Regions from separate parts of the Homo sapiens genome. Here region 1 is linked to region 2. Evidence: fine-mapped expression QTL. A gene starts in region 2. The other region holds a variant in brackets. All regions are shown on one strand. Distances are from middle to middle. Region 1 overlaps SNX19 (sorting nexin 19). Region 2 holds the start of SNX19 (sorting nexin 19).

Region 1 (16,448 bases), 25 kb before region 2:
ACCCACCCAAGCACCCTGTAAAATGTTTGCAGGGGCCTCAACCATGAACACTGTGTTCTGTACTGCCAGTCCTAGCACATAAGTATGAGTATTGGCTCATCCAATCAGTAGCAGCAATCTATAGGGTGGGAGAGAAAGGAGGTCTTGGAGGTGATGGTGTAGATTCAGGACATTATCCATTAAACAAAATGTTTTTGCCCATTTCACACCTGATAAAAGTTATACTTCTTTTCTCTCTGATGCCGTTCCCAGGCCTCTGTCTTCCTGCCATGGCCCCTTCTTGTGTTTATAGACAGTTTCCCCTGTCAGCTCTCAGCTCTAGGCTTCTGTCCTGTAACTATCCAGACCCAAGTTACTCAGCTGTGTCTGAGAAAGTTCAACACTGCTGCCCTCTGACTGTGTATCTAGGTCACCATCCTTTCCTGCCCAGTGCTGGGGAAGAATGAGGAGGAAATGAACCCCGAGGGCAAGAAACTACCACTTCTTTCTCCCAATACTACTGTGAAATCTAAAATGGCTCAGAGTTGGCACAATTTCTTCTCTGATTTTTGCTTTCATGTTTTAAATCATGGATCCACATCTTTGAATCATGTACTTCAAGGGAAGACTTGACATTCTCCTAAATACCACAATATAAGAATCTGAGTTCCATACATTTATATCTAGCCACAAACAGTTTTTGTTTTTGATTAGTAATGTACACATCACAGATATAAAATTAATATGTATTAAAAAATGGAAGGATTCTTAAGGAAGGAACTTCAAAAAATCATCTGTTCAACCTTAGTGGTTTTTCCAATCTCACCAACTCTACATATGAAAGCATTGGGCACCAAAAGGAAATATTTTACATCAAGTGGCTTATAAGAACATACAACTTGAGAGTTGGAAGGAAACTTAGAGGTTATTTTATCCAGTCTCCTCCCAAAGCAGAAACCTCCTCTGTAATATAACGGCATAGACAAGGGTTGGGTCCTGTGAATCCAGAAACTTGGGCTTTTATCTTAGTTCTGCTACCCAATTAGCAATGTGACCTCAGGCAAGTGGCTTAATTCCTTAAAAGCATAATCTAAATTCATTGAAGATGCTTCTTAAACCTTGCCAACCCAAATCGGCCTCCTTGTGTTAATGAATTCTAGTCATTGGTCCTAGTTCTACTCTCTGGAGTTACCAGATATTAGGTTAAATCTCTTCCAAAAGACAACATTTTGCATTTTTAAATTCAGCTATTATTTCTCCCCTATGTCTCTTCTACATCCCATACATCCGTGATTTTGCCAACCTCAAAGACACTCAATAAATGTCTGATGAAAGAAGGAGAGAAATGAACCACTCCTCAACCTGGCTCCATCCTCTGGGTGTGCTGCTTAGCTTTTCTTTTAAAATGATGTGCCCAGAACCAAACAGCTCTGAGATGTGACCTGACCAGCAAAGAACATAGGGGATTGAGCCTTCCTTTAGATTTAGATACTATACTTCTCATACAGCCGAAGATTGTGTTAGCTTTTTGGCACACACGTCAAAAGCACTGACTCATATTGAGTTTTCAGCCAGCTAAAATCCTAAGTCCACACAGGTACATTACAAAAAAAAAAAAAATCGTGTGCCCCTCTGTTAAGTATAGTCTTGCCCTTCTGTATTTGTGCAATTAAAAAAAAATCTAAATTATAGTTCATCTTGTTGGCTTTAGATTATCATTCTAAGTTTTCTAAATGTTTTTGAATCTTAATTTTCATCATCTAGAGTTTTAACTACTCCTCTAAGATTAGAATTACTTGCAAATTTTCTGATGAAAAAATTGATCAGGATAAGATGAAGAGCAGTGCTCTATTACTAGAAATTTCCCTCTAGGATGGCATCAGTTTATGATATTATTTAATACCCTTGGGCTAAAGACACTCGACTAGCCACAAATTACTTAAATGTACTATAATGCAGGCAACATATTCCATTCTGTCCATATGGATATTATGGCAAAAACTTGTTGGAATCCATACACAATGTAACTACAACTGCATGCTAATCAGGCAGGGCACACTCCTACTGAACCCATAATGGTTTCTAGGGTTCCCCATTGCCCTTCCCAAATGTTCACAAACATCTATTTCGTCATCTGCTTCAGAAATTTCCAGAAATAAATGTTGGGGTCAAGAACCTTTAACCATTTTTTAAAAAGGCAAGATATCTGTGCATCTCTAACCCATATGGACAAATGGCAATGTTTCTTAATGACCTTAGGTCTTTAATGTTAAATATAAATTTGTTAAGTTTCATGGGATATAATTCATCTAGGCCATGTACAGGTTTAAATGTACAAACTTTAAAATAGGTTACGTGCTCTATTATTATTTTCATTTCTATTTTGGTCGCCAATTCTACTTTAATCATGTCTGTTCAATTCTTCTTGCTAGGCCATTTTCCTTGACAAAGAAAATAGAAAACAGCCTAGCAAATAATAGACCCATTCATTCACTGCTGAATGAATGAATAAATGCTTTCACCATGTAATCAGTTGATACTACAGCATCTGTCCCAAACAATTACCTACATATATTTTTTCTTGTTAGTAACATGTGACACGTGTATGTGTTTTTCACCTAAGTCTTTTCCCTTAATATTTATCTACAACCTCAGCTCCTTCTGAGTTGAAGCTTACTGGACCCTGTTCTTACTAGTTCTATTACTACTATTTTTGCATTGTTCAGTATGTGTCCCCTCTTTCTGTTTTTAAAATATGTTCACCTAGAATCTGATCGCAGTTAACTACCCTGGTTTCATTTGATGCTGACTCTTTTTCTTCCTCATTGGAAATGGGTGTTTAATTTGTTCATTCATTTACTCAAAGCATTGGTTGAGCTTCTTGTAAATGCCCCCCGACCCCCCAGAAAAAGACTCTTAAGGTTTTGAAGGCAGAAATCTTATGTAATTCATTTTGACATCTCCTTTAGCATTTAATAGTGTCATTCACAAATAAACAATCAAATATTTACTGAATGAATCGATCCTGTTGCAAAACTTTGAGTGATACCTTCAGGCGTGAATTTTAAGTTAATCTGTTCTTACAGCATGTAAAACAGTTTTTATCTCATTCTGTTACGCTCCTGTGAATTCCAGTACTCTCATCTATCTCTGCTTTCCTTTCTGTGTCAGCTGTTTTTCTCAATATCCAGTTTTAACTTTATCTGAATTTTTTTGTCAATGTCTTACTCTTCACTGGGTTGATGGTCTGCTGACAAACACATTCTTTCTACTATTTTTGAGTTGTATTCTGTCTGTGGTCAGAAGTTCACCATGTGAATAATCATACGTCATGGCACAGAAAATTTAAAAACCTTGCCTTGGTACCAGCTACAAGGTTAGCTATTCATTCTCTGTTTTCATTTTTCTTCTAAAGAAACTTACAGATAGAAAAAAAGTTGAAAATATAATCTGGGCCTTAAGTTTTCTACTAAAAAGAATCTCAAAATTATTAGAGATACAGTACAGGCTTCTCTGGGTGCATCATTGATTTTTATATAAATCAGAGTAGATACTAATCTATTACTTTAGTAAGCAACAGGATTTTAACCACAACCCCAATATGCTGTTCAGAAAGATATTACCCCATCTTTTTAGTTATGCTTCTCAATCTGCAAGGTGGAAAACTGTGTGAGTCATTCTTGATTTGTCTTTTTCTCAACCCTAATCCAACACCACATAATCATTTAAATAGTCACTAAATATAGGTGATCCTACCTCCTCAATATCTCATGAATCTATTACCCCTTTACCATCTCTATAGCAATGATCTCAGCTGAATGCCTCATCACCTTTTCTATCAATGAAACTCCTCCCTAATTTGTCTTCCTGTTTCTAACTTTGGCCCCTTCAATTAATTAATCCTCCACAGCACTATTTAAATGATTTTTCTCAATTGCAAATTTGCTCATGTCATCATCTGTTTATGTTTTGTAAAATTGTTTCCTATCAAATGAGTGACAAATGTTTTGTTCTTGGAATGACTCACAGGAGTCTGAATGAGCAGACTCCCTTTAAACTCTTCACTGTTATCATCAGCCATTATTCTTGCATATCATATATTCCTAATCAATCATACTAACTTCTTTGAGTACCACAAATACACTATATTGTTTTACTGCTCTGCCTTGAATGTTCTCTCTCTCTCTCACTGTCCGCTGGCAACGCCCCACATTCTTTAAATCTCATCTCTGATGTCATCTACTATAAGCCTTCCCTGCACCTCTCATAATTGATAAATCCCTTCTCTGAATCACATATAGAGTTCTTTTCAAAGCACTGATTTTATACTACAACTCCTATTTATAAGTTTGCACCTCCAATTGGATATCACACTTCCTATGGTAGGGATTTGGGTCTTTTTTTTTTTTTTGTATTTTGATCACTTAACGAAGTGCCTACCACAGAGAAAGCAATCAATAAATATTGGTTACTAAGTGAATTCATGCTGTATATGGGACAAACACTGGTCTTAAAGCATGGCACACAGTTCAAAATAGGTTCTGCAGAAAGCATACATCCCAATACTTACAACAGCAAAAACATTGAGCTCTTAATTATTCATGCTTACAGAGGAAGACAATTATAGATTTTAAAAAATCATGGACAATATAAAAATCCTTTATATTTGGCATTCCATATATGTTTATATACACGTCTGACAGATTTACTTTCCTAATAATCTTTTGTTTAGGCTAATAATAAAATGAAACTGTGGGCTAATACACCAGCGATAGAGCTGATGTTGTAACGGGTATGCTAGGTAATAAGTCAGGTGGTCTAGAACTAAGAATAATCCATGAAATGGGCATTCACACCTGGCTATGCATTCCTCTGGAAGGGAAGAGAGCTGGAAGGCAAGGGAGTGGGTCAGCCATGCTCCTTATCTCACACTATAAATCCTGGAGGAGAGAGACAGCTGCCAGTAGCTTATGTTTGGTCAATTTTCCTGGGAAATAGGCCCAGAGGATAGAAGAGATTGAAAGTCAAACAAAAAGCAAAGGGGGGTTATGAGGACTATGAGTCACACTTGTATTTTGGGAAGTGCCTCTGACGGATGGAGCAGCATTGAATTGATTCCAACCCATTATTTGAAACTAGTAAGAAGAAAAGAAGAGAGGAAGGTAGCAGAATGGGGGAGGAAAGACCAAAAGCAAAGGTCAGGTTACCTTTCTAACAAATGTAGAAAGAGAAAAAGACACTTGGGGTCTGTGTATTTTTAGGATAAATAAGACTGATTGTAAAGGGAAAGCTCTAACAATTTCTATATTTGAGTATTGTGACATGTTTAAGATTTCATTCTGAAAGTTTTTTCTTTTTTTTTTTTTTGAGACAGTCTCATTCTGTCGCCCAGGCTGGAGTGCAGTGGTGCAATCTCGGCTCACTGAAACCTCCACCTCCTGGGTTCAAGTGATTCTCTTGCCTCAGCCTCCCGAGTACCTGGGACTAAGGGCATGCGCCACGATGCCCGGCAAATTTTTTTTGTATTTTCAGTAAAGACGGGGTTTCACCATGTTGATCAGGCTGGTCTGAAACTCCTGACCTCAAATGATCCACCCACCTTGGCCTCCCAAAGTGCTGGGATTACAGGCATGAGCCACTGCGCCCGGCCAATCTGAAAGTTTTCTATGCACAAATCTAGTGTGCCTCTGAAGTCTTTCAAGTCAACCTTTTTTTGGCCCCATACTATGTTGCTACCGACATACTATAATCCAGTTCTGAGAAAATCAGGACTGACAGACTTTAAAAATGACACTGAAAAGCGACAGACAGGTTTGAACCTGGCTTAACCACATAAAAGTTGAACAAACTCTCTGAGCTCTGGCTTCCTTCATTATAAAATGGGCAAATTCTTGCCTTGCCTTTTTCACAAAGTTATCATCAAGATGAAATAAGAAAAATAAAAAGTATTTCTAAAAGTGCTTGTGTGTTTGCACATGTAAAAGAGAAAAAGACTACTTCAGACCTTCTGTAAAAATTCAACCAGGTTCAGCGAACTAATGATGGCAGGATCTGGAGTAAGCTTTGCATTTCATGCCTCAGTTTTCTCACTTGTAAAGCTTACTCTTCCTGGCAGGCTCAGGGAAGTAAATACTGAAACCAGTAAAGCATTTGGTACTGAGCAGTTAAGAAAATTGGGACGAGGCCTCAGGGGGTTTTGGATAATATGAAAACTCTATTTCCGAATCCTTCCTAAAACCAGACCTCCATGTACCAACCAATAAAACTTTCACTGCAGAGACTATAGGATCCAAATGTCTCTGTCTCTTCTTTCCTTGTCCCCGTGTGAACAGCAAGCCTGGCTCATTCTCAGTCCCCAGGTAGTTATCCTGAGCCTGCCTTTCTCAGCAGCAAGGGCAAGGGCAGAGAGGTGGGGTGGGGAAGGGGGAAGGTAATTAAAATGGCCACCCATTCAGAAGAAAATTGAGTCCGTGGAGGGGAAAGGGCAGGGAGAGGGAGCAAAACCCTTAGTGCTGAAGCACCAGGAAGAAAGGCAAGACACAAAAGAGGGAAGAAGGCAGTAATTTAGTGGTTGTCTTGACGACCAGAGTCCCTATTGTTCATGGGGGCTTTACCTCACAGGGAGATCTCCCTGTTCTGCTCTGCACATAGAACTCCCACCACAGGAAAGGAGGATGGGAAGGGAAGGGTTGCAGGAGGCAGAAGTGATAAGTAATTATGTGCTCGCAGAAGGGGCTGACCTCCAAATTTCTGCAAATATTACGGATAACAGATTTAGAGTGTGCTCAGCCATGATTTGGAAGAAAATTATTAGGGATTTATTTAAATCAGCAGACATGGGAGGACTTCAAATTATGCTGTGAAAATGGCTACAGGAGGCTGGAAAAGACCAGCCTTGAGGAGAATAAAGAATACATATATGAGAAGCAGATGCCCAAGATAAACAAAGAGAAAAAACACTGAGAGGGGTGTAGAGGAGAAGGAAAAGTGACTATCATTAACACCATCACCTTGGTGTAGAAGAGCTACCCAAAAGTATTTCCAGTTCCCTGTCTACAGGCTGAAATGTAAAACCTTTCCAAGTAGAAGGCCATCTATCCCGTTATGAAGGACGTAGGGACACCGAAGTGGCAACTCCAGAATCTCCACAGAATAGGAACTTTGGGAGCACTGACTATGGGTAGAAAACACAGAGGAGTAATAAATAAAACTGGAAAAACAACAAAAAGGAAACCTGGGGGAGAGAGGAGGCAGGTGTTGAGGAACTTACCTTGATGCTGCATTTGCACACCAGCCTCCCTCCCAGGAAGGCTGAATCCTCTCCGAGAAATCTTTCGGGGCCAGCATTATATTAGAGCTAAAGTATATTTCCCACCAATTTACCCAACTCCCTCCCTGCTCCAGTACCAAATAGCTCTACTTCTCCAAAGGGCACTTGGAGAAGCCTGCAAGGACAGAGGTAAAGATCAAAAGTAAGCAATAACATATGGTTGCTTCTCCAAAACCAAGTTAATGGGGGAGAGCCAAACGGTCTCCATCCATGGCCGAAAGCAATAGGGAATGTCCTTGATTATGTAACAGGTTGATAAGATTCCTAACATCGGGGCTATTCAGCACTGACAATCTCCATCTTAGTGAATACATAATGTATAAGATTTTAGGATCACAGGAGACCCTGAATATAGGTCCAAGTAGTTTATACAGAATATTAACAAAATTCTTGCAATTCAGATGTCTAGCTGGTCTCATCACCACAGACTCTGTTCTGCTCACTCTGTTCTGAATGAATCAGCTCCAGCACTGAATTTTTAACGGGTGGGATCCACTCAAAGGGGCAACTTCTGGTCATCCACACCACTCAGAGAAGCAAGCATATGCTGAAGACGCATTAGAGCAGAAGGAAGAAGGGTGAAAGATCAAAGAAACAGGGCTTATCTAAAAGTCACTGGCACTAAGGAGTAGGCAGATAAGTGGCCTCTAAACCGTAGAGCAAGCCAGGGAATGGCTTCAATATACTGTATCAACATCACGGCAGGGGACCTATAACTGCAAAACAAACAGGTCTTCCTCAAAGGACAGTGAATGGTATTGTTTAACCTGCAGCGCCACCTGGTGCCCATAGAGAGAATTCCTGTGCCCACGCCATGCAGCAGCAGTTTGGTAGGCTTTTTGTCACCTATTTGAAACAATAAAAGCAACACACATTCAGAAAGAAGCTGGCTAAAAATATTCCAGGTTGCTTTTTATTTGAAAGTAGAATGCCCCTCCTCCTGTTTTAAAAATGTCTTAGTGTCTAGAATATTATTTAGCCTAAACCAGTCTAAATGACACCTATCTCACAAGATCTAGCTGTTATACCTTCCTCTATAAAGCCTCTCTAACATTTACCTCTAAATTATCTCTTATCCCCCCAAAGAACTTCATGCACTAGGCTATGATTTCTATTTCGACAGTAACAGACAAAGGAAGTTAAGTGGTTTGTTCTAAGTCACATAGCCTCAAAGCAAGATCTGATTTCAGATCTGACTTCAAAGTCCAAGTTCTTGCTTTCCATGTGGAAGGAAAGAGGTGGAGAAAGTACAACAGCAGGAGATGCTTCCAGAGAGGGCAGGCTCGGTGGGGCTTCATACTGGGAGGCCCAGGTTGTGGAGGGGCGCTGCACTCTTTGGAAAGGAGAGAGCCATTAGAATGGGAGATGGCCTGAAGGGCCCCCAAACCTCTTTGCTTAGGCCGTACCATGGCTCTGGGAATCAGAATTCCCCAATTAACTGAAGATCTGGGTATGCCCTGTGTGGAGGGAATGAAAGACTCAGTTTCCATTTTGCTTCTGGTCCCCCAGCACTGTTGAGGAAACCCTAAGATTCTTAATAGTGATAAGCAGAGGGACTGCCTCCAGTAGAATGACGTGTGATCTTCTGTGTTCATTTATTTGACACAAATTTACTAGGTGCCTTCTATGCATGGGGCTGGGTGTTGAAGATATAATGGTAAATAAGACGCAGTCCCTGCCCTCAGGATGCTGACATACATTCTAAAGCTGTCATCAAAATGTCAAAATCTTAGGTTCCTGTTTGCAGTCACAGATGGGCAAGAGATGCCAAGAACCTGACTTGGAAAAAAAGGCTCTGAGGTTTAAATACCTCATGATATTCTGTTTTTTGTTAACTTTTACAATGAGCAATTTTGTACCTCTATTTGAGTATATGAGACTTCAAGAGCACACACACACAGAAATGCAAATGCAATGCTCAGGCACACGGCTGTCAGCTGCCATCCACCTGCTACAATCTCAAAGATATATTCCAGTAGAGACTGTCACTATGTGACAGGAAAGCCATGATGTCTTCATCCTAAGATGGGTGTAGAATAAGTGATACCCAAGAAATATGACAGGCAGACCACTCATATGACAGGGGAAACTGCTAGGGCCCATCCTGGCCCAGTCTATAGAAGTCAAGAGCTTCCCTTTGGCATGGCCTAATGGAAGAGGCCTGGGACAAGCAGTACTCCTTCCCAGGGAGCCACAGTACAATCTGAGCAAAGCCATCAATGAGAAAAATTAATTTCAGCACCTCTAAAAACAGCCCAAGCCAATGACTGGAGAGCCAGAAAATAAGCGAGAATTCTGAAGACTGAGCTTGAGTTAATTTTGTATGTGGGGGTCTTGCAAAAGTATGCGTATTTCTAGAAAAGCTGTGCATAGGAAGAGAT[G/C]GGGTATAAGACATAGCCAGGCATCAGAGCTGAACTGGAAGAAAAAGTTACACAGCAAAGGAAAAAACTGTAATCTATGCTTCCTGAGAAACTCTGAGTCTTAACGTTGATAATCTTTTCCTGATTGTGAATAGCATATAAATAGAGATAGCTAAGAGACAATCTCTGGCTCAGAAGTGCTTTAAAAATAAAATCAGAATATGCAGACAAAAATAATTTATATGCTACCATCAGATGCGTGTGTCCCTGAGACCAGCTGGATGGAAAGCAAGAGAGGCTAGATGGGAATACGGCAAGGGAACTTTCAGGTGAACCCAGTTCTAGTGGCCACTGCTTTGTGGGAAAGCTTGCATGGAGGGGAAGCATGGCAGAGCAGTGGGAAACACATGAGCTCTGAGGCCAGGATGACTTAAGTGGAATCTTAAGGTGTGGTTGTTACGACTTTTATGATTTTGGGAACGTTATTTTATCTGAATGTAATTTTCTTCACTTATGAAATGTAGAACTACATGTCTATCTCATAGAATTGAACATTAATATAAACAGTACATAGCTGCTTTCCTGGTATTAATATTGTAATAAGCGTCAGTTCCTTTCCCATTGCAATTACTCGTGCACTTTTGGTGGCAGACCTGGAGGTTCTCTTAAGAAATAACCAATGTCACAAAGAACTGTTATCCACCTGCTAGTTAGACATGCCCACCAAGAAAGAGGCCCTTGAAGTAGAGTTCCACAGAAAGCGCCTTGATTCTGGAGCGTTCTAAGAGAACAGTGGAAGCAAGAGGGTTCATGGTCAACCTTTCCCAACTGTCCTTAGGGGAGGTGGACGTTGCGCCTTGCAGCACAGCACTCTCCAGTGCTCCCAGACTCTGCCGCAGCTCTCCTGACCTTTCCTAGGAGATGGTTTAGAGAGAGACATCTTCTCTAAGAAAGTGATTCCAAGGTCTGGTGTAAGGTCTAGAGCTTGCCATCAAGTTTCTCCTGGGTGCCCTGCTTGTTGGACTCCTTAAACCTGCACACCCTTTCTTTTCTTCTTCCTCTCTGGATACTTCCTAACTTTACACACTTCACGCTCCCCTCTGCCAGAACCTTTCCCCCTGGCTTTCTGCCAAGCCATTCCATTCCCACATGCCCCCAACACTCACACACACACACTCTGTCTCTATCTTACACACACACACACAGACACACACACACACACTCCCTTTTTAACTGAGAAATCCTGACGCAGATGCCAGGAATGTGTCTGCTGCCCTTTTGACACAGGTCTGATGCCATCGTTGGGGCCATGGGGAGGGCAGCGCCGCGGACGTGGCATTCACGCATTCTGCTGCTGGCATGGTTCCTATTTTTATCGTGGCATTGCTCTGGGTGTCCAGGCAGGGCGCCGGTCCAGCTTCTCATTCCTTCACTTTCCATCAGGACTCCACACCAATCCTACCCCTTACCTTGGCTGGATCTTCCTGCCCCAAACCCCCTACCATCAATGCAGCACAGTGTATCTCTCCTCTTTCCCTCCAACCCAGTCTAACTCTGAGTACTTGCCCAGTTTGCTAAATCTGATTCTGATGTTTGCAGAGATATTTTCAAGTTTCTTCTGTTTTCGGGCATGAGCAGAGTTTGCACAAGCCGGATTTGCTCCTTGGCTCAGAGTGCTACCCGCTCTCCCCTTCCCCTCCCTTTGTCTCTCATTCCAAATAAGGAGTGCTTCTTGTTACATAATTGGATGTTCCCAGCACAGAAGCTGACACATGAGGTTAGGCGCACATGCATGCAAGACTTCCCTTTGACTTAACAATGCCTTTTTTGGGCATCTAACTTCTCTTCAGCTCCCCTCCCACTTCTCTCCACATCATCAACAATCAACGGAGATTTATAAGCCTGGCTCAGATCAGAGCTCTTCCAACTTTGGCTTAGAAGGAGGGGTTATGAGGTCGAACTTACTCTGTTTTTTTTTTTTCCTTTGCAGGATAGAGAGTGTGCTTATAATTTGACAGAAGTCTATGGCGTCCAAGGCAGTAATGTACACAGGTCTTTTAAAGTTGCAAGATGGGTATACAAAGTTGGAAGCAGAGGAATAAACTTGCCTGCTTGGGGATAATAATACTGGAGGTTGGAACATGAGGACATTTTAAGGAGGAGATGCACTCAAATCTGGTGACTACAGCATCCCTGATGGTCAAACTGCAGTGAGTTCTAAATAACTAGAGAAGTGGCAGTACCACGTGTGGCACCAACACCAACTATCCTGCTCTTTTAAGCACGGAACTTAAAGGAAGAGAACCCAAGTACCCTGCAAAAGCATATGGCTCAGCTACCCGTGGTTTCAGGGAGGACAAACATGTAGCCTCCTAGGCAGCAGTCATGGGGATGGGAGGCAACGGGACCTCATATCATGCCTCTTGTGGGAGATGCAGGGGGTACAGTGGAGAGGTGCTGCAGCTCTGGAGATGTCAAGTTTCCAGCATATTGGCTTACCAAAGCAAATAAAGCTGAAGCATGCAGCAATGCATACACCACTTTTTAAAATTAAAACCTGCAACTGTCCCAGGGATAGTAACATGGGCTGTCTTTAGACTGCAGCACTGCCCTTAGGTTAGCTGCAAGTGTGTAGATACGGAGATGCAGTTTGGATTCTACAAACTGCCTGATAATCTCCAGTACTTGGAGACAGAGATTTTTGGGTTGGCTTTTATCCTGCTGAATTGCAGGGCAAAGATCTGATCCTGAAATTTAGACAATCATCACAGCTATAAATCAGAAAAACCTGGGTTCAAATTCTGCTTGTGATATTTATTAACCCTGTGATTTTGACTAGATAACCCACATTCTTTGTAAACCTTAGTTTCCTTGTCTTTAAAATGAGGGTCATAGTACCGCTTTCGCAGGACTTGGAGGAATTAAATGGTATTAAGTTGGTGCAAAAGTAACTGTGGCTTTTGAACAGCATGTGCATACAGTGTTCAGTACAGTATTTGCACTAAGTCAACTCTCGATAAACATTTGCTGGACAGCAAATGTGCTGATGCTGACGAGATTATCAACGTTTACACTCTGAATGCTAAAATGTGTTAGCTCCATGTCTATAATGCACAGGGTGCTTCCAGGTATGAGACCATGGGCCACCAGTGCCAGATCTTTGGAAGCTCTAGTGGAAGAACCGGTTCTTTCTTTAGATATCATGACTTCTAGCTTCCTATCTTAAGGAGGCTTCAGGAAAACTGTGAAACCAGCTATAAGGTACTTCAGAAGAGGGCCAAAAATGTCATTAAAAAGATGGGAAAAATGATTTGTAGGGATACATGAATGGCCTCAAACAGAGAAGTATGAGATTCTTCATTTAATTCTAGTCTGTGGAAGCTTGGGTGAGGAGACTGCTAACCAGATGTGGTCCTATTTTCATTGCAGCTAATACAAAACCAAATGGGCTAAGGATAAAGTTGTATTCTTAGATATAAGAACTTGTTGACAGGAAGGGATATGAGGTAACTGAACATGTATAAAACATCTTCACCTGGAAATATGTACAATGAACCAAAGATAACAGGCCATAGTTACAACAAGTTTTTCAAAAGTAACTAGCCGCAAAATGCTGTTCTTGCCCAATATTCACAGTGGCTTCATTCAAATTCACCAAATATATTCAGAGTTTTCCCACTTTTCCCATCACAATAGTGATGCTTTTCCATAAAACAGAATAAGACAAAACCAAAAAACAAAAAGTCAGAATGTGAAAAGAGGAGAAAGTCTAGGGAAATTCAGCTGTAAGCCCTCTCCCTCATTTCCTTTATGGCATGAGCTACATTTGGGTTTTGCTAGTCTGCATTCACCAGACTTTACCCAGCTCACTGGAGTTGTGGTTGTAGTTGGGGAGTGTCAGGGACAGGAATGGAAAGGTGAGGAACTTGCCTGGGCAACATAGTGAGACCCCATCTCAACCAAAAAATTTAAAAAATTAGCCAAGCACGGTGGTGTGTGCCTGTAGTCCTAGCTACCTGGGAGGCTGAGGTGGGAGGATGGCTTGAGCCCAGGAGGTTACAGTGAGCTATGATTGCAGTGCCACTGCACTCCAGCCTGGGCGACAGAATGAAATCCCATCTCACTGATATTTCATATATTGACATTTTATCCTCAATATATGAAAAATGAAAAAGAAAGAAGTCTCACAGCCTCTGCTCTGAACTCTAAAATGAGCCCTGTCTTTTCCATGTCTGCCACGCAGCTGGAGCTTGCTTCGCTCGTATTTAACTTTTCTGCCTTAGATCTCCCAGGGCCCCGGCCACATGAAAAAGTACTTCTGTGATCATTCTCTAACTCCCAGAATATAGGTATTTCTCCTTTATCTGGACTAGCCCAAACCCTTGAGCACTCTGAGTTATTCAAACTTCAGGTCAACTTTTTCCTACCCCTTTTATATAAGGATCTCAATCTTTTTTGAATTTCTCCTAACTCATCTATACTTTTATCCTCATACTGAATAATTTCTCGTGTTCTGAAACCAATCTGTCATGTAAATGACCTCAAGGAGAAGGGGTCATATTAGATCACACACTAGCTAGTTTTGGGATCTTCTCATTTTGTTTTTTTAAACCACTTAGAAGATTAGCAAAGGGAAGTCCAAAAAAAGAAGAAGAGAAATGAAGGCCTAATTAGTGACATCCAGAGGTGACAGAATAAAACTAAAGAGACTATACTTTCAAGTGTAAAGGTACTGGGAAGGGAAATGTTTATTTCTTTATTCAATATTTAATGAGTACCTACTATGTCCAGGCCCTGTATAAGCTGCTGGGGAGACAAAGCTAGTTCCGGTCCTTAAAGAACTAATAGTCTACACAGCATTTCTCAAGCTTGGTAACACTGATATTTTGGGCAGGATAATTCACGTTGTTTGGCATGGTGGACTGTCCTGTGTAGCTGCAGGATGTTTAGCAGCATCCTTGGCCTACATCCACTAGATGCCAGTAGGCATCCCACATCTCCTTCCCAGTTGTGACAACAAAAAATATCTCCAGATAATGGCAAGTGTCCCCTGGGGGACAAAAGTGTACCCCAGTTGACAACCACTAGTGTAGGAAAAGCAGATCATTTATATAAACACACTGTGACAAGTATTATTATCAAAACTTTGCAAGTTAGAGAAGAGGACTCCTTAATTCTCGGGGAAAGAGAGCAGATGCTACAGAAGGTTTCACAGAATAAATGACATTTTATGCTTAATATATGAAAAATGTTTTGCAGTAGGCCAAGCAGACAAGAAGAGGAAAAGTTAGGAACACATGGAAGGAACAGGGAAATAACAGGTAGAGAAAGACCATTCGAAGGCAGATACAGGAAGATGAGCAAAGGCCTGGGGGTAAAAGACCACAGAATATTCAGGCAATGATGGACGTTTACACGGTGGAAAATGAAAAATAAGACTGAAACCAGATCATGCCAAGTAAGAAAGGAGGTGGAATTTTAATATAAAGAAATAAATGCATATTTTAAACAGAGTGGAGCCCCTTTTCAAACAAAGCGTTACCTAGAGCCCCAGTATATTAAACTGATCAAAGTGTAACTTCTGTGGTTGGGTCATGGTCCACTCAGTTTTCCCTGAGCTTCTAAGTTGGCTTCAGAAGCACTTCTGCAGAACCCTAGAACTCTAGGAAACATAATGGAAAAACCACTTTTGTAGGTAATAGGATACTACTGAAAGATTTTAAGTGCAGAATATATGTTCAGATTTGTTTTTCAGAAAAAGGCACTCTAGTGGCAGGGCTGAATACTGAGTAGGAACAAGGGGAAAAGCTTAAAGGGACAAAGACCAGTCAGCATTTTATATGTAGGTTTCACTTGGACATCAGTCTTAAGGCTACAAGATACATGAAAAAAGCACATTGGCTTTGAAGTTGTACAAATCTGGTTTAAAATTCTAAGTGTGCTACTAATGACGACCTTGGGCATGTTAGTTGACTTTGCCAAGCTCTATTTTCTCATTCTGTAAAATGGGGCTACCTACCTCACTTGACCACTATAAAAAAGTACATGTAAATGGAGATTGGGCGCTGGCATAGATAAGCGCTTAGCAAATATAGATGTGCATCATCTTCTTTCACTTGGTCTCTTTATGATTCAATTTTATTAAACCTCCTTGATCCTACATAACTTAGAAAAGGGAGATTTAATTGCTTGCTGTTAATAACTTTTCGACTTGGTAAAGAATAGATACATAATTCTTTTTTATAAGGATGTATTTTTTGAGTGACCTGTTAGCATGAGCCTCATGCTAAGAGAAGGTCAGCATTTGGCTTCCTCTTACTTTGGGATGTGCCAGGACGTCTCATAAGAGGGAGTTCAAAACAAGAGTAGCCAAAACCCAAGCACTACGTGTGTCTGCCTGGCTCAGAGAGAGTGTTTCTGGCCTACTTCAGGTTAACAAAGCTTACATCAGTTCCATAGTTAGAAAGTCAGCAGCTAAAAACTCCACCTGTGTACAAATCTTTCAGGAGATCAAATGGTGTGAGGATTACAAAGACTGGATTAGAAAAGCCAACTTGCAAATCCAAATTTCCCTCTATTCTTTACCATCCTGTGTCAGTAAGTATTTCAGCTGTGAATATTTATGCCCCTCTCAGAGAAAACAATCTTTATTTCAAGAGCACTGATCTGTTTTCTCCTTTTCTTTCCCACTGTTTATCATCACAGTGATGACATAATGTCAGTTGAGACAAATGTCCACCATAACCAAGTGAGAGGTGCAGGGCTGGAGGATATAACTG
Region 2 (16,448 bases):
GCACTAAACTTCAAAACTCCTGAAGCAAATCCAGGGAGCAGAGAACCTTGAAACGGCATTCTCCTCCCCGATCCCTCCCATAAACCAACAGGCCAATCAGCGTGGCTCGACGTGGGAAGCAAGCGGGCAGTAGGGGTTGGGGAAACTCCTGACTTTTGATGAACTTTCGTAGATCTGGTTTCTCCTCCAGACGGGTCTGCAGATTCAAGAACTCCCGATAGCGACGATTCACAGTGTGGTAGGCCAGCTGCTGCAGGCCGCTGCTGTTTTCACCGTCAAGGGCTGTCTCGTACTGTTCAACGAACAAATTGATTGACTCAATCAGCCGGGTTTCAGCAATCTTCTATTCTGGCTTTACTGACTACTTGGTCAATGGCCACATAGCAAGAGTACGAAACTAAGAACAAAGGGAGGGAGTATGTTCCTATTCTGTTCCAGAACCTCCTATATCTAATTGCTTAGAAAGTCAGAAATGAGTTTCACTCCTCCGCACTACTACTTTCATCTGAAAGCTCCCTCTCCCAGATACTTTCTTGACTTATAAAAATGGCTACATAACTGTTTTTCAAATGAATATTTGAATAGAAGGCATAACATCCATAAAAATGATACTGCCTCTATCACCTTTAAATTACAGGGCTAAACATCATAAGGGGCAAACCATTTTTCCATTATACTCTCCCGTGATTATTTATATTAGTTAAGGGAAGAAGAAGTAATCCAAACAGCAGATATAAATCATTTGTTTATCTGGAATAAATTAAAGGGTATTTGTTTTGTTTCACGCAGATTAATTTTCCTAATTGTTATTCTTAGAGCTAAACTGAATTTTTCCTAAGTACGTATCATCTGTATCACAGAAGTCACATGAAAATTGGAGATGTGATAAGGGGTCAAAGTCCACTGTCTTCCTAAGCTTAGAGGGCTGGTATGTGGAAAAGACGACTTATATCTCATGTTCCCCAAAGAGTGAATACCACGGATGGCATGGAATCTGCAACTCAGCATGGGGGCACACTTCTTGACAGGGTAGTTAAGACACAATGAAACGCTGTGGGAGAAGTATATATGTGCGCCTTCTCATTAGGAATGGGCTATTATTTTTCGGTTGAGGTATACTGTGGGCAAGAGGTGGAAAAAACTACCTCCTCGTTGGTGGGAGTTGTGGCTGGTGCTTTACAATTTTCTGGAGACAGGGTATTCATTATGAGCTGATGTGAGCAAAGCAGTCCCTCAGAACAGCACTGAGAAGGAAAGACCAAGTAAGAGCAACAGGTGGCATTCAGGGTGGGGCTCTCAAGCCTGGAGCATTTGGAACTATGAGGCTTTCTGTGGAATATGCTGCTCCTCGAGGGCCAATTTTCAACACCGTTATGGTTACTTCCATCACATAAACCGAAAACTATTTACTATCAGAAAGTATAATAATATTGATATACAATTTAAAATCAGTTATATGTCCATATAAAAATCTAAACCCAATTTCAAACTACTCATAATTGGCTATATTATTTCGTTCTCATTTTTTACTTTACTCTTTTCTAATGCTTAATTGAAGCAGTAGCAGATGTCAAAATCTAGCCAACAACAAAAAAGAACAAATAATGGGAGAAAGACTGGGAACTTAAACATTCTATCCATCAACTTAATTTTTCTGCTAATGAGGAGGGAAAAAACCTGCTGTTTTATGTCAGTATTGGAATAGTCATTAAAAAAAGATGAAATAACCAGAAGCCAACACTTAAATGTGAGAAAGGTGCATGGCATAGGGGCATCCAGAATTAGAACAAAAAGGCAGGAAAATGTTAACAAAGTTATACCAGTCCTTTGAGGCTAGTCTCAGTTATTTTATGACCAGACATCTGTACTTCTACAATTTGCCTATAATGAGTGTGTGTCTGTGTGTTCACCCATATGCATTTCTAATTACTTCCATTCCGTCTTACTTGAAAATGTCATAATGTTACTTTCTAAAATGCTATGTCATGATGCAGCTGTGTTGAGCAGATCAAGGAAGGTCTTTTCCCTCTTAGTTGGATTGGGAGTTCGGAGGAGTGTAGCAAGCAGGCTGTCCCTGGTGGTAGCTTGTGGACTCAAATGAGAGAAATTCAAGTGTGGAAGGCAAGTAAAATCCAATGGGTAGGATCTTGTCCAAGAATTTTCTTTCTCAACTTCTTCCCTGCTGATTTCTTTTTCAAAATACTGGTACATTTTGTACTTTGTTTTAGGAAGGTAGGTTATTTACCTATGTCTATCTCAGAAGATAGCAAGTTTTTGACTCTTGGAGGTGTGTAAGCAGACTTGGGAACAACTTGACAAGAGATAACATGAAGAGGGTTGGTTGGATTAGAGAGGCAATTCCCCAAGATGGCCTTAGGACAGGCTGACTCTATGTTATCTGGAGAGTTCTATTTGAAAATAAATAAAATACAGAATCCAGGGACCCCCTCCTTAGAAATTCTCATACAGAATCCAACAGAGTCTGTCAGAATCTGTATATCTGAAAGGCAGCTCAAGTGATTTTGAGGTGCAGCCAAGTTTGGGAACCACTGAAAATATAACCCTCAGCATTCTAGCAGCCCTGAGGTTCCAGGATTGCTTGTGTGAGTACAGGATAAACGCTACTCTGCCTTACATATTAGCTTCAGACCATTCACAGAGATAGATGCCTATTGAAAGAACCACTTCAAACTAACAGCATCTCTCCCCCAAGAACATTTGCTTCATGACTGCTTTCCAAACCCACTCCTAGCCCGGGTGAGCACCCACAGCTTTAATCCTGTTACCTTCACAGTATAGAGTGTGTATGGGTGGAATCCAGTGCCACTGTGCTCTCGGGCTGTAATGGTGCCAGTGATACGAAGGTTCTGGATGATAACTGGACCATCGGGACTGCTTAGGGGCTCAAAGCTGAAGGTGGCTGAGCTGAGAGGACCAGGTGGAGAGGAGGAAAGCAGAACTGGTGGCAGAGTAGGATCAAGGGAGCTCACATCATTGGTGAGATCCTTCTCTAAGCATGACGGCCGTGAGGGGCAGGTCTTTTCTGGCCCCTCCAGCAAAGCTGTAACAGAGGCGGTAACATCTCCTTGTTCTATCTCCTTGTCTGCTGTGTCAATATGGATCTCTGGGCAGGAATTCAGTGTGGAGACCGGCAGGCCTGTCTCTGTTTCTGTCCCTGGACCCTCCTCAGCCTCTGCTCCTTCAGATGCCTCACCATCTTTGGGTTCCAGAGCCTGGGAACTCTCTAGGGCACACAGGGCATCCTGAATCCTGTCAGAGAGAAAGCTGCCTGGAGTCATGAGCATGATGGTTTCTTTGCCCAGTTCAGACAGCGGAGACTCCAGCTCTGAGTCTTCACATAAGAACAGGGGACCTCGAACATTTGGCTGTAGGAAATGAGATGAGTTGTTTCCTACTTTTCTTTCTTCACACATCCCACCCAAATCTCCCTCTACAGCTTCGTGGCCTTCTTCAACCTCTGGAGAGGGGCCTGCAGAACCCTCTGGCTCACTGTAACTTAGGAATACTGGGGCTGCTACTGGAGAAGCTCTCCCTTCTGGAAGCTGCTCTACCTCAGCAATCAGTGGCAGAGATGTCGGCACTGAGGGCTGTTCGGGGGCACTGGCTGGGCAGGGTGCTGGATCTCTGGCCTTGGAAAAGATACCCACGAGTACAAGGTGGATCCAGTCAGGATCTGACAGCCTGCTGATCAGTGGTAAGATTACATTGCATGTGATGAGTTCGACCACTACATGGCGTCCGGTACGAGTCTCCAAGTGGGGCTTGGGCACCAGCCCTTGAAGCAACAAATTCACAACGCCACGCGTATAGGTGACTTCAGCACTGGGGCTGTGCACAGCAGGATGTGGGGCAGTCGCCCGGCAGTAAGCCTCCCAGAGGTGGGAAGGCTCAACTGGACCATTCTTCCCTGCAGTGGCCTCCTTTGCCTGAATGTAGCTCTGCAGGTGACAACCGCAGAGAGTCAGAACACTCTGGGCAACAGCATGACTGTCCATCACGCTCATCCTTCTCCGAAGCTCCTGGACCAACCCTTTCATGGCTGCCTCCATTTCTTCCTCAAAGGCTGGCTCCTGGCTCACGGAACGGTACCAAGATAACACAAAATCTCGAATAATCATCTGGATGGTGCGGTTGATCTCCCGTTCCAGCTGCCTTTCTGCCTCAGGGCATGGAGGACAGGTGGCCAACGGGATGAAGCGTTCCAGATGCAGTCGACCTGAAGCCACTCCAGCGAGGCTGGAGCCCAGCCATCCTCCCAGCACCACTAGCAATGCCGACAGAAGGCACAGCAGCCACACGTTGACCAGAAGGTGTATGACCAGGAGCCAGCCAAGCAAGACCCCCACAGCCATCAGCTTCCGGCTACTCAACAGGTTATTGAGGTGACAGCTCGATCCAGCTGGAGTTTCCTGGAACGGTGGCACTGTTTCTGTCTTCATGGCTGAACGGACAAGGTGGCTTCCCCAGATGACAGCCCTCAAGATTTTACTTCAGAGTTAGGGAAGGGGGGCATGAACTGTGTCTCAGATATGGGGCGATCTGGGTGCTGTTCAGGGAACCGGGGCTCCAGGCCCTCAAAGTCCTACAGGCACTGCAAAGCGACAGCTGCAGCTCCGCGTCTCCCCATGGCTACCACTAACAGAGCCCTCCAACTCGCCCCTTCCAGCTGAGGTGTGGCTTTGGAGGAAAACTCTGTGGCCTTCACACTGCCCCAGGCGGAAGGCCTCTTCGGGGCCTCGGGGCGGGCGCTGCAAGGCCCTGGGGCCCACGGACACTTACACACGCAGCGGGCAGCGGCCGGCGAAGACTGGGTCACACGCCGCCGGGAACCGCGCGCCCACACTCAGCCCCGACCTGAAGTGGACTCATCGCGGTCCTCTCCGGGAGCCTCGGCCCTCTGCCGCCGTAAACCTGGGCGACTGCGCTCCGCAGCCGGGCCTGTGTGAAGGCTGACCGCCGGCCGGCCGCCGGCGACAGCTTCCGGGTCGACGTCGACGGGAGCGAGGCATGCTGGGAGAGCGTCCGCGCGCGCCCCGAGGAGCGGCGCTGCCCGGCGCCCTCTGCTGGCGAGGAGCCGCCCTGACGGCCCTGCGCGAGGTAGTCTCTGAGCCTGAGCGTGAGCCTGAGCGCGCACGGGGCGCGTGCTCGCCAAGAGCTGGCGCAGATTTCCGAAGTGCCACGAAACAGCCGCCGCAGCAATCACCGCTAAGACCCAGACTTCCAGGCGCTTTAAAACGCGTCCTAGTTCTGGTTATTAAATGAAGCCTGTCCTTTACTGCTTAGGCACGCTGTCAATAATCCGGTTTATTTTAATTTCATGGAGGCGAAGTTTCATTGGCCTGATGTGTCTTAACATTTATCCGGTTTCCCCTAGAGCCGGTACCCCGCGTCCCCAGCACAAAGACCCTCATTTGTTGTCAGGAATTGCAGAATATAAGGCATGAAACGATACAGAGATAGATTTATGTTGTACATTTCATATACTGTATCACAAAATCAAATTTGTGATTGAGGGTTATTTGCTGGTGGCATTACACAAACAATCAAATATTTTGAGCATCTGCTGTCTTCAATGTGAGAGGCAGCGTGGACGAATAGAAGCAGACCTTGTCCTCCAGGACCTCCTGCTAACTGGGGATGCCAGCGCTTTGAACGCGATTGGCTATCTAGTAATGCCAGTCAGCGTGCGATATAGTAAAATACAAAATCTTATAGGAATTCAGGGGAAGGAGAGATCACTGTGGGTTGCAATGGTTAAGGAGAAGCTCACAGAAAAGGTGCCTTTCTGCTGAGTCTTCAAGGATGAGGGTTTCTATTTCCCTCTATCTCTTCTCGCCTTATCCTCCCCAAAAACATAGAAAAGGAAAGCAGAGATAGAGGTGTCCTTTCAGATAATCCTGTAATATATTTGCTTTGGAATATGCTCTATGTTGGATTGTTTTTGGTTTTAGCAAATTAGACTTCACTTGTCTACACAGGAACCTATAGGAAGACAAAATACCGGAAGCACTGACCAGGTGTCAAAAGTGTTAGTGTCAGTTTTGCGTGAAGCCAGCTTCCATGTCCACCTTGGGCCCTAGGAGCTGTGCCCGCAGGGTGGGTCTCCTTTCCATTTAGGCATAGGATTCGCATCGTTTGCACAGAGCTGCTCATGGTTGCCCTTCGTCCACCTTCTCTGTGCTGTGAGCAGTCTTTCATCATCATGGACTACTCCCTAGATGTTTAAAGGAATCTTCAAACAAATCCCAACCCAAAACTCTGCCAACAAGAAGTGCGTTGCAGCTTCCTGTCTCGTCCATTGCTGCTGTTGGGGCAGAGACTTCCTTTGAATACGAAAGAAGCCATCATTTAGATGTGACCCGTAGTTTACGATTCATCACTTCTAAAGCAAATGGTTTGATTTAGGATCAGTGTCCACTAAGCAGACTGGGCACTCCCGTGAGATGGCAGAATGTGAATCCACGGTTTCACGGTCCATACCTTTTCACTGCTGCCTGCCTTCCCGCAGAAAAGGAACCCGAGAAGTGGGCTCTGCCCCTCTACCTTCCCAGACCATTCTAATGTCCTCAGGAGCACTTAGAAAATGGCAACAATGCTCTGGAGAAAAGTCCCTGCCACCTAGTTGGGAGCTAAAACAGAAATGTGAATGATGAAGGGACTACCGACGGTGCTGAAGACTTCCTGTGGCAGTTCAAAGAGAAAGTTTACTTGGCAGCATAATCTGGAGTGTTCAGGGCAGTAAGGAAGTGACCTTGCAAGTGGGCGCTATGCCACCTGACCAGATGGTCTGGAGCATCAAGGTAGCCAAGAGTGCCTTCCTGATTCTGAAGCGGGTTTGATGGACATGCCCGTGCACTTGTCATTTGGACGGGTGTGAGCTCCTGCCTGGGGGTCTGGGCAGACCCTGGTCTCCAAACAGATTAATCACTGGGAGGAGGTGAGAGTCAGGACTGATGTGCCCTGGTGTGTGTATGTGGGGTGGGGAGACTTGGCCACACCACTCACCATCTGGAGACGTCCTTCCTTCTTTCCTTTTCCCTATTTCTCAAAACATTAAAGGCATAGTGCTAGAGTGTTGGAGAAAACAAGACAAATAAGATACAATAATTCTCCTCAAGGGACTCTCAGTCTAGTTAAAGGAGAGACACATAAATATATAAACGTAATGAAACATGATCACGTGTGTAATGTGATGTGTTCTGATGTGTTGTAATAGAAGTGCATACAATAAAATCGAAACACAAAGCGGGTGGTCAGCTGTGGAGGGGGGTGGCTCATAGACAGTTTTCCCTTAAGTTGGGAAATGAAAAAGAATTGAGTGTATTTTAGGAAATGTTGGGTAGCGAGAGCAAGGGGCAAACAGAAGGAAGGTCTTTCAGGCAGAGGCCTGCTCATAAGAAACAGGCAGAGACCATGAGAGCAGGGGGGCCCGTGACATAGGCCCTGCCAGAGCCAGCCCGCACCCCACTTGAATTTTCTCTCAAAATAGAAGACCAGGAGGCTTCCTAAAGAGAAGCTCAGTGATGGGGCAAGTGAGTGAGAAGAGGCGATGGTATGGAATTATTGCTGTGGGATATAGAAAGGGAGCTATCGAAGGTCAGGTAAAAAGATGAAGTGGGGGCTGGGCGCAGTGGCTCATGCCTGTAATCCTAGCACTTTGGGAAGCTGAGGCAGGCAGATCACGAGATCAGGAGTTCAAGACCAGTATGGCTAACATAGTGAAACCCCGTCTTTACTAAAAATACAAAAAAATTAGCCAGGTGTGATGGTGTGCTCCTGTAATCCCAGCTACTCGGAGGGCTGAGGCAGGAGAATCGCGTGAATCCAGGAGGTGGAGATTGCAGTGATCCGAGATTGTGCCATTGCACTCCAGTAGCCCGGGCAACAGTGCGAGACTCCGTCTAAAAAAAAAAAAAAAGAGAGAAGGTGGGGCTGAGGGACCTTTTTGTAGTGGCACCAATACATATGGTTGAGTTATTTTCTCTGGAGGTGTTTAGTATTGTATTAGTCCATTTTCATGCTGCTGATAAAGACACACCGGAGCCTGGGCAATTTACAAAAGAAAGAGGCTTAATTGGACTTGCAGTTCCACATGGCTGGAGAAGACTCACAATTATGGCAGAAGGCAAGGAGGAGCAAGTCACATCTTCCGTGAATGGCAGCAGGCAAAAAGAGAAATGAACTTGTGTGGGAGAACTCTTCTTTATAAAACCATCAGTCTCATGAGACTTCTTCACTATCATGAGAACAATGGGAAAGACTTGCCCCCATGATTGAATTATCCCCTACCGGGTTCCTCCCATGACACATTGGAATTGTGGGAGTTACAATTCACGATGAGATTTGGGTGGAGACACAGAACCAAACCATATCATTCCACCCCTGGCCCCTCCCAAATTTCATATCCTCACATTTCAAAACCAATCATTCCTTCCCAACAGTCCCTCAAAGTCTTAACTCATTTCAGCATTATCTCAGAATTCCACAGTCCAAAGTCTCATCCAAGACAAGGCAAGTCCCTTCTGCCCATGAGCTTCCAAAATCGAAAGCAAGTTAGTTACTTCCTAGATACTATGGGGGTACAGGTATTGGGTAAATACAGCCATTTCAAATGGGATAAATGGCCAAAACAAAGGGGCTGCAGGCCCCATGAAAGTCCGAAATCCAGTGGGGCAGTCAAATCTTAACACTCCAAAATTGATTCAAAAAGTGGGTTCCCATGGTCTTGGGCAGCTCCACTCCTGTGGCTTTGCAGGGTAGAGCCTCTCTCCCAGCTACTTTCACGAGCTGGCATTGAGTGTCTGGCTTTTCAAGGTGAATGGTGCAAGCTGTTGGTCAATCTATCATTCTGCAGTCTGGAGGACAGTGGCCCTCCTCTCACAGATCCACTAGGTGGTGCCCAAGTAGGGACTCTGTGTGGGGGCTTTCACCCCACATTTCCCTTCCTCACTGACCAGCAGAGGTTCTTCATGAGGGCCAAGCTGCTGAAGCAAACTTCTGCCCGGGCATCTAGGCATTTCCATACATCCTTTGAAATCTAGATGGAGTTTTCCAAACCATAGTTCTTGACTTTTGTGCACCCACAGGCTCAACATCATGTGGAAGCTGCCAAGCCTTGAGGCTTGCACCCTCTGAAGCCACAGCCTAAACTCTACGTTGGGCCCTTTCAGCCATGGCTGGAGCAGCTGGGATGCAGGGCACCAAGTCCCTAGACTACACACAGCACCAGGACCCTGGACCCGGCCTATGAAACTCTATTTTCCTTCTAGACCTCTAGGCCTGTGATGGGATGGGCTGCCGCAAAGAAAGATCTCTGACATGCCCTGGAGACATTTTCCACATTGTCTTGGGGATTAACATTCAGCTGCTCGTTTCTTATGCAAATTTCTGCAGCGGGCTTGAATTTCTCCTCAGAAAATGGGATTTTCTTTTCTATTGCATTGTCAGGCTGCACATCTTCCAAACTTTTATGCTATGCTTCCCTTATAAAACTGAATGCTTTTAACAGCACCCAAATCACTTCTTGAACGCTTTGCTACTTAGAAATTTTTTTCTGCCGGATATCCTAAATCATCTCTCTCAAGTTCAAAGTTCCAAAATCTCTAGAACGGGGACAAAATGTCACCAGTCTCTTTACTAAAACTTAACAAGAGTCACCTTTGCTCCAGTTCCCAATAAGTTCCTCATCTCCATCTGAGACCACCTCAGTCTGGATTTCATTGTCCATATCATTGTCAGCATTTTGGCCAAAGCCTTTCTACAAGTCTCTAGGGAGTTCCAAACTTTTCCACATTTCCCTGCCTTCTTCTGAGCCCTCCAAACTGTTCCAGCCTCTGCCAGTTACCCAGTCCCAAAGCTGCTTCCACATTTTCAGGTATCTTTTCTGCAGCCCCACTCTACTGGTAACAATTTACTGTATTAGTTCCTTTTCATGCTGCTAATAAAGACATGCCTGAGACTGGGCAATTTACAGAAGAAAGAGGTTTAATTGGACTTACAGTTCCGTGTGGCTGGGGAAGCCTCACAATCATGGTGGAAGGCAAGGAAGAGCATGTCTTCCATGGATGGCAGCAGGCAAAAAGAGAAATGAACTTGTGGAGGGGAACTCTTCTTTATAAAACCATCAGATCTTGTGAGACTTATTCACTATCATGAGAACAGCATGGAAAAAAACTTACCTCCATGATTCAATTGCCTCCCACTGGGTCCTTCCCACAACATGGGGGAATTCAAGATGAGATTTGGGTGGGGAACCAGCCAAGCCATATCAAGTATCCTCGGTATAAAAGAGAAGCAAGCAGGAGGTATCAAGGTAGATGAAGTGAAAGGAGAAAAGATTAGGACCTTCACATCCTGGGAAGAGAGTGGTTACAGTGGAAAATCATGGAGTCTAGGTATCTGGGAAGGAAAACGAAGCCAGGAGAGAGACAAACAGCTGTGAGGAGAGGATGAGCTGTACTGGGAGCAAGTGAGTAAGAGCCAGAAGAAAAAGACCTGTGGCTCAAGATTGGTCCATCAGAGCCTGTGTTTGTTCTTATGGCTGCTCTACCAAATGACCATCAACTTAGCAGCTTGCAGCAAACATGTTTATTCTCTTACATTTCTGAAAGTCAGGAGTCTAAGATGGATTGAGAGGGCTTGTTCCTGTTGGAGGCTCTAAGGGAAAATCTCTTTTTTGTCCTTTCCAGCTTCTACAGGCTGCCTGTGATCTTTGGCTTATGGCACCACATGCTCCAACCTCTGCTTCTGTGGTCACATCTCTTTCTCCCACCTTGACCCTCCTGCCTTTTTTTTTTTTTTTTGATGGAGTCTCTCTCTGTCACCAGGCTGGAGTGCAGTGGGGCGATCTCGGCTCACTGCAACCTCCACCTCCTGGGTTCAAGTGATTCTCCTGCCTCAGCCTCCCAAGTAGCTGGGATTACAGGCGTGTGCCACCACACCCAGCTAATTTTTGCATTTTTAGTAGAGATGGGGTTTCACCATGTTGGCCAGGATGGTCTGCCTTCTTCTTAAAATGGCCCTGTGATTACTTTGAGCCTCCGCAGTTATCTAGGAGAAACTTCCCATCTCAAGACCCTTAACTTAGTCTTATCTTTTGTTTCTTTTACCAAGTAAAACAACATACCCACAGGTTCTGGGGGTCCAGATGTGAACATATTTTGGTGGAAGGGGGCATTATGTGACCTACTACAGAGGCTACATGCCTAAAGATGAAAATGTTTTTGTGGTAATAAAGTCTGGGTGTGGCCAGATGAGTTTCTGAAATAGGGTCTGGATAACCTAGGGCTAGGGTTGAAGGAGACATTTTGAGTCTATGTTTTGGAGAAGGATGATCTACATGGTCAAGGAAGTCACTAATGTTAGGGTAGAGAGGACTAGGATCTTGGTACAAATGTTCTCAGTAAGTGAGAAGAATGACCAGGAAGTTGGAAGGTGATGTAATACGAGGAGTGATATGGTTTGGCTCTGTGTCCCCACCCAAATCTCATGTAGCACTGTGATCCTGAGTTTTGGAGGTGGGGCCTGGTGGGAGGTGATTGGATCATGGGGGTGGTTTCTAATGAGTTAGCACCGTCACCCTAGCGCTGTTTCGTGATAGAGTTCTCGTGGGATCTGGTTGTTTAAAAGTGTGTAGTGCCTCCCCCTTTACTCTCTCTCTCCTGCTGTCTTATGAAGATATGCTTCCTTCCCCTTTGCCTTCTGCCATGATTTTAAGTTCCCTGAGGCCTCCCCAGCCATGCCGAACTGTGAGTCAATTAAATCTCTTTTCTTCTTAAATTACCCAGTCTAAGGTAGTTCTTTATAGCAATATGAGAACAGAGTAATACAAGGAGTAAAGAAAGTATGGTGATACCAAAAGAAAAGAAGGAAATTGTGTGTAATTTGGGAAAGAATCATCTAAAAGCATCCATGAAGAACTAGGATATTGGCAGGAGCATCTCCACATCCTGCCTTAGGCGCGGTGATGGAGCAAAATAGCCACCAGAGGGCAGCAGAAAGTATGGCATCTTAAGGAGAAACTGCATCTTACTTATTCATTTGTCAGTCCCATGTCTATCCATTCACCCCACGAGGATTAAGCCAGATATTGGGAATTCAAACATGGTCTTTATATAGTTTATCTTCTTAAAGAATTCACAGTCTAATGCAAGAGATGGATATTGACACAATGTAAAAAGTGCTATAATCAAAATATGTCAAAATATGGGAAGGCAGAAAATTAGGAACAGTTGCACAGAAGAGATGACTTTTGAGCTGGCCTTAAAGGGTGGGTTGAATTTCCCATAAAGACAAGAGTAACAGGCCCGGCGCGGTGGCTCACGCCTGTAATCCCAGCACTTTGGGAGGCCGAGGCGGGTGGATCACCAAGTCAAGAGATCGAGACCATCCTGGCCAACATGGTGAAACCCCGTCTCTACTAAAAATACAAAAATTAGCTGGGTGTGGTGGCGCGCCTGTAGTCCCAGCTACTCGGGAAGCTGAGGCAGGAGAATTGCTTGAACCTGGGAGGCAGAAGTTGCAGTGAGCTGAGATCGTGCCACTGCACTCCAGCATAGCGACAGAGTGAGAGTCCGTCTCAAACATAAATAAATAAATAAATAAATAATAAAAAAAGGTTAAAAAAAAAAGACAAGAGTAACAGGTCGTACTAGGAATAAGGGAGACATGAGAAATACTGAGTAAGCTCCCATACTTGTTTGCTACGGCTCAGAACAAACTACTACATGCTGGGTGGTTTAAACAACAGAAATTTATTTCTCACAGTTCTGGAGGCTGGAAGTCTAAGATCAAGGTGTTGGCAGATTTGGTTTCTCCTGAGGCCTCCCTTCTTGCCTAGCAGAAGGCCACCTCTTCAGCGTCTTCCCTCTGTGCACACGCATCCCTGGTGACTCTTCCTCTTCTTATAGGGATACAGTCATATTCGATTAGGGCTCACCCATAAGACCTTATTTAATCCTAATTACCTCTTTACATGCCTATCTCCAAATAGAGCCACATTCTGAGGTATACTGAGGGCTATGGCTTCAACATATGAGTTTTGAAGGGACAGGGTTCAGTTCATACTACCTCTTTTCTATCTGTGGGTTATGTGAATGGTCATATTTTGATTATGAGGATACTAAAAAGGAAGATAATAATCTTGATAGTTCCCAATATTTTTTTTCATTTCATTCAAAAGTGGAAACAGCACTGAACTACAAGTTAAGGAGATCCAGGCTTAACTTCCTCATCTGGCTGCATACAATACTAAATGCTCGAATAGCCCTTCCCTCTGCAGAACAACCAGACACTGAATAGGAAACAGTTATTGATGAGTTAATGGGCTCAAATGAGGACACAAAATAGGTGAGAAGTCCAAGGTACACTATCCCATCCCACTCTAAAAACAAAACTATTAAATAAGAGCAAAACGAAACAGAAAACAACTCTGAGATGAGGATAGAACTGTCAGTGGAGAGCAGATGAAAGGAGCAGGGTGGCCCCAGGGACAGACGTCCTTATCAGATCTGTAATTCAGGTTCTGAGCCTTGTTCCAGCAGGAGGAGGTGAAACTGAGCCCCTGACTCCACTTGGAGCCACAATCCTTGAAGAGGTTTGAAGAAGTTCCAGGTCAGTGGCATTTCCAAGCTTCTGGAAGACACAAAAGAAATCCATTCTGGAAGAAAATATTCTCATGGTAAGACCATGAAATAAGCACACATTTAATATAGAGTACTATGAACTCTAAATCCAAGACCATCAATTATGAGAAGGAAGGCTAACATGAGTGAGAATCAGAAAAAATAAACAACAGATTGAGAACACAAGGACTGTGGATATGAATATTGTCTGCTGCTTAAGATAGAAGATCCATGTATGAGCTCAAAATGAATGAAATACAAGTATGTTCTAACAATAACAGATTGTCAAAGATGCCCATACAGTTTCAAAACATAGCCAAATGAAACTTTTATAAATGAAAAATAGGACTACTGAAATAAAATACTTAATGTATGTGTTAAATAGTTGATTATATATAGCCAAAGAAAAAATTAATGACCTACAGTATTTGTTGAAAGAAATTATTTAGGCTATAGCATAGAGAACTAGGGAACTGAATATATGAAAGAAAAATGAAGAGAAATGAATGCTAAAATAAAAATTCTAATATTTATATGATCAAGAGTTCCAGGAAGATAATAAAGAGAATGGAGGAGGATAAAAATTTATAGAGATTTTGGCAGATAGTGTTCTAAAACTGGATGAAAACGTAGATTCAGGAAGCATCAATAATATAAAGTAGATCAAAAGGCCAAAAGTTTATTGTTTTAAAAGACCAGTAAAAAAGAAAAAAATTTAAGTAAATTGATTGAGAATGAAAAAGAGATAAATAGTAAATAATATGGAGCCTGATAAAGGAGACATAATTATGTATGCAGTAGAATTAAAGGAATAACTTAATGACGGCAAATTTAAACTCTAAAACAAAATGGAAAAAGTTTTAGAAAAATATAAATTACAAAATAATCTAAGAAGAAATAGGATGTTTGAATAAATCTACGCCTATTGAGAAATTAAGTAACATTTTAAGGTTTCTCTCAAAGCAAATACCAGATAATTTTATAGGCCAATTCTCCCAACCTATTCCAAATAGAATAGGTCATTCCAAATTTATATAATCTTATATAAACTCCTTAAGATTTCTTAAAAGTACATACTTTGCAACTCACGAATATAGTGTAACCTTGAAATCAAGACTAGACAAGACAGAGAAAGAAAGAAAATGTATGGGTTAACCTCTCTCATCAACTTTTAAATGTAAACATTTCTTTCTTTTTTCTTTTCTTTTCTTTTTTTCTTTTTTTTTTTGAAACAGAATCTTACTCTGTCACCTAGGCTGTATTGCGGTGGCGCGATCTCAGCTCGCTGCTGCCTCCTCATCCTCCTAGGCTCAAGGGATCCTCCCACCCCAACCTCCTCAGTAGCTGGGGCTACAGGCACAAACCACCATGTCCAGGGACTAATTTTTAAATTTTTTTGTAGAGATGAAGGGGATCTCGCCATGTTGTCCAGGCTGGCCTCAAACTCCTGGCCTCAAACGATTCTCCCACCTCAGCCTCCGGAAGTGCTGGGATTACATGTGTGAGCCACCACATCCAGCTAGATGCGAACATTTCTTAAACAAAATATTAGCCAACTAAATCCAGCAGGGTACTTAGGTGAAACCCCGTCTCTACTAAAAATACAAAAAATTAGCCGGGCGCGGTGGCGGGCGCCTGTAGTCCCAGCTACTCGGGAGGCCGAGGCAGGAGAATGGCGTGAACCCGGGAGGCGGAGCTTGCAGGGAGCCGAGATCGCGCCACTGCACTCCAGCCTGGGAGACAGAACGAGACTCCGTCTCAAAAAAAAAAAAAAAAAAAAAAAAGATAACACAAGGGTGGTTTAACATTAAAAACTCTGTAATTGGCCAGGCATGGTGACTCACTCCGGTAATCCCAGCACTTTAGGAGGCCGAGGCAGGCAGATGGCTTTAGCTCAGGAGTTTGAGACCAGGCTGGGGAACATGGTGAAACCCCGTCTCAACCAAAAATATAAAAATTAGTCAGGTGTGGTGGCTGGTGCCTGTAATCCCAACTGCTTGGGAGGCTGAGGTGGGAGAATGGCTTGAACCCAGGAGGCAGAGGCTGCAGTGAGCCGAGATCACGCCACTGCGCTCCAGCCTGGGCGACAGAGAGAGACTCTCTCAAAAACCACAAAACAAAAAAACTCTGTAATCATCAGCCCCTACATTAAATGAGAAAATCTACACGTTGTCTCAGTAGATGTGGTAGAAACGTTTGACAATATTCAATATTCGTTCATGATTTCAAGTAACAATTATAGGAAGGCATTTCCTTACCTCAAAATATTATTCTGAATGGGAAACATCAGAAGCGTTTCCCCGGTTCAGTTATTTTCTTATATTTAAATATTTTAACAGCTCTATTGAAGTATAATTGACATAAGATAAATTGCAAATACTTAAAGTGCACACTTTGATAAGTTTTGACATAAATATATGCCAATGAAACCATCACCACAATAAAGGTAACTAACACATCCATCATCTTCAACTTTCCTCCTGCTCTCCCAGCATCACCCTGCCCCCTTTCCCAAGCAACCACTGATTTGCTTCCTGTCACTTTAGACTAGTTTGTCTTTTCCAGAATTTTACATAAATGAAATCACATATAATGTACCTTTTCGTGTCTGACTTCTCTCACTCAGCATGCATAATTATTTTGAGGTGCATCCACGTTGTCGTATGAATCAGTAGTTTATATTTTTATAGCTGAGTAGTATTCCATAGTATGGATGTATGATAATGAGTTTATTCTTTACCTGTTGATGAATATTGTCTCACTTTTTTGTTTTTGTTTATTACAAATAAAGCTGGTGTGAGCATT

Evidence for each region. PIP is the estimated chance that this variant, and not a neighbour inherited with it, causes the effect.
Region 1: its variant is fine-mapped to the expression of SNX19 in prefrontal cortex (ROSMAP, PIP 0.95).

Annotation. Positions count from the first base shown.
Region 1 is chr11:130,886,515-130,902,962 of GRCh38, forward strand. The region is part of intron 8 of SNX19 (sorting nexin 19); the gene reads right to left. Among named protein-coding and RNA genes, the nearest start is that of SNX19, 22 kb to the right of the region's middle. The variant G/C (reference allele first, on the strand shown) is at 9,691.
Region 2 is chr11:130,911,480-130,927,927 of GRCh38, forward strand. SNX19 (sorting nexin 19) reads right to left here and starts at 5,000. Exons shown (of 11, transcript NM_014758.3): 1 at 2,787-5,000; 2 at 154-292. The coding sequence starts at 4,460. RefSeq lists an enhancer at 4,743-4,792 and a silencer at 4,913-5,192.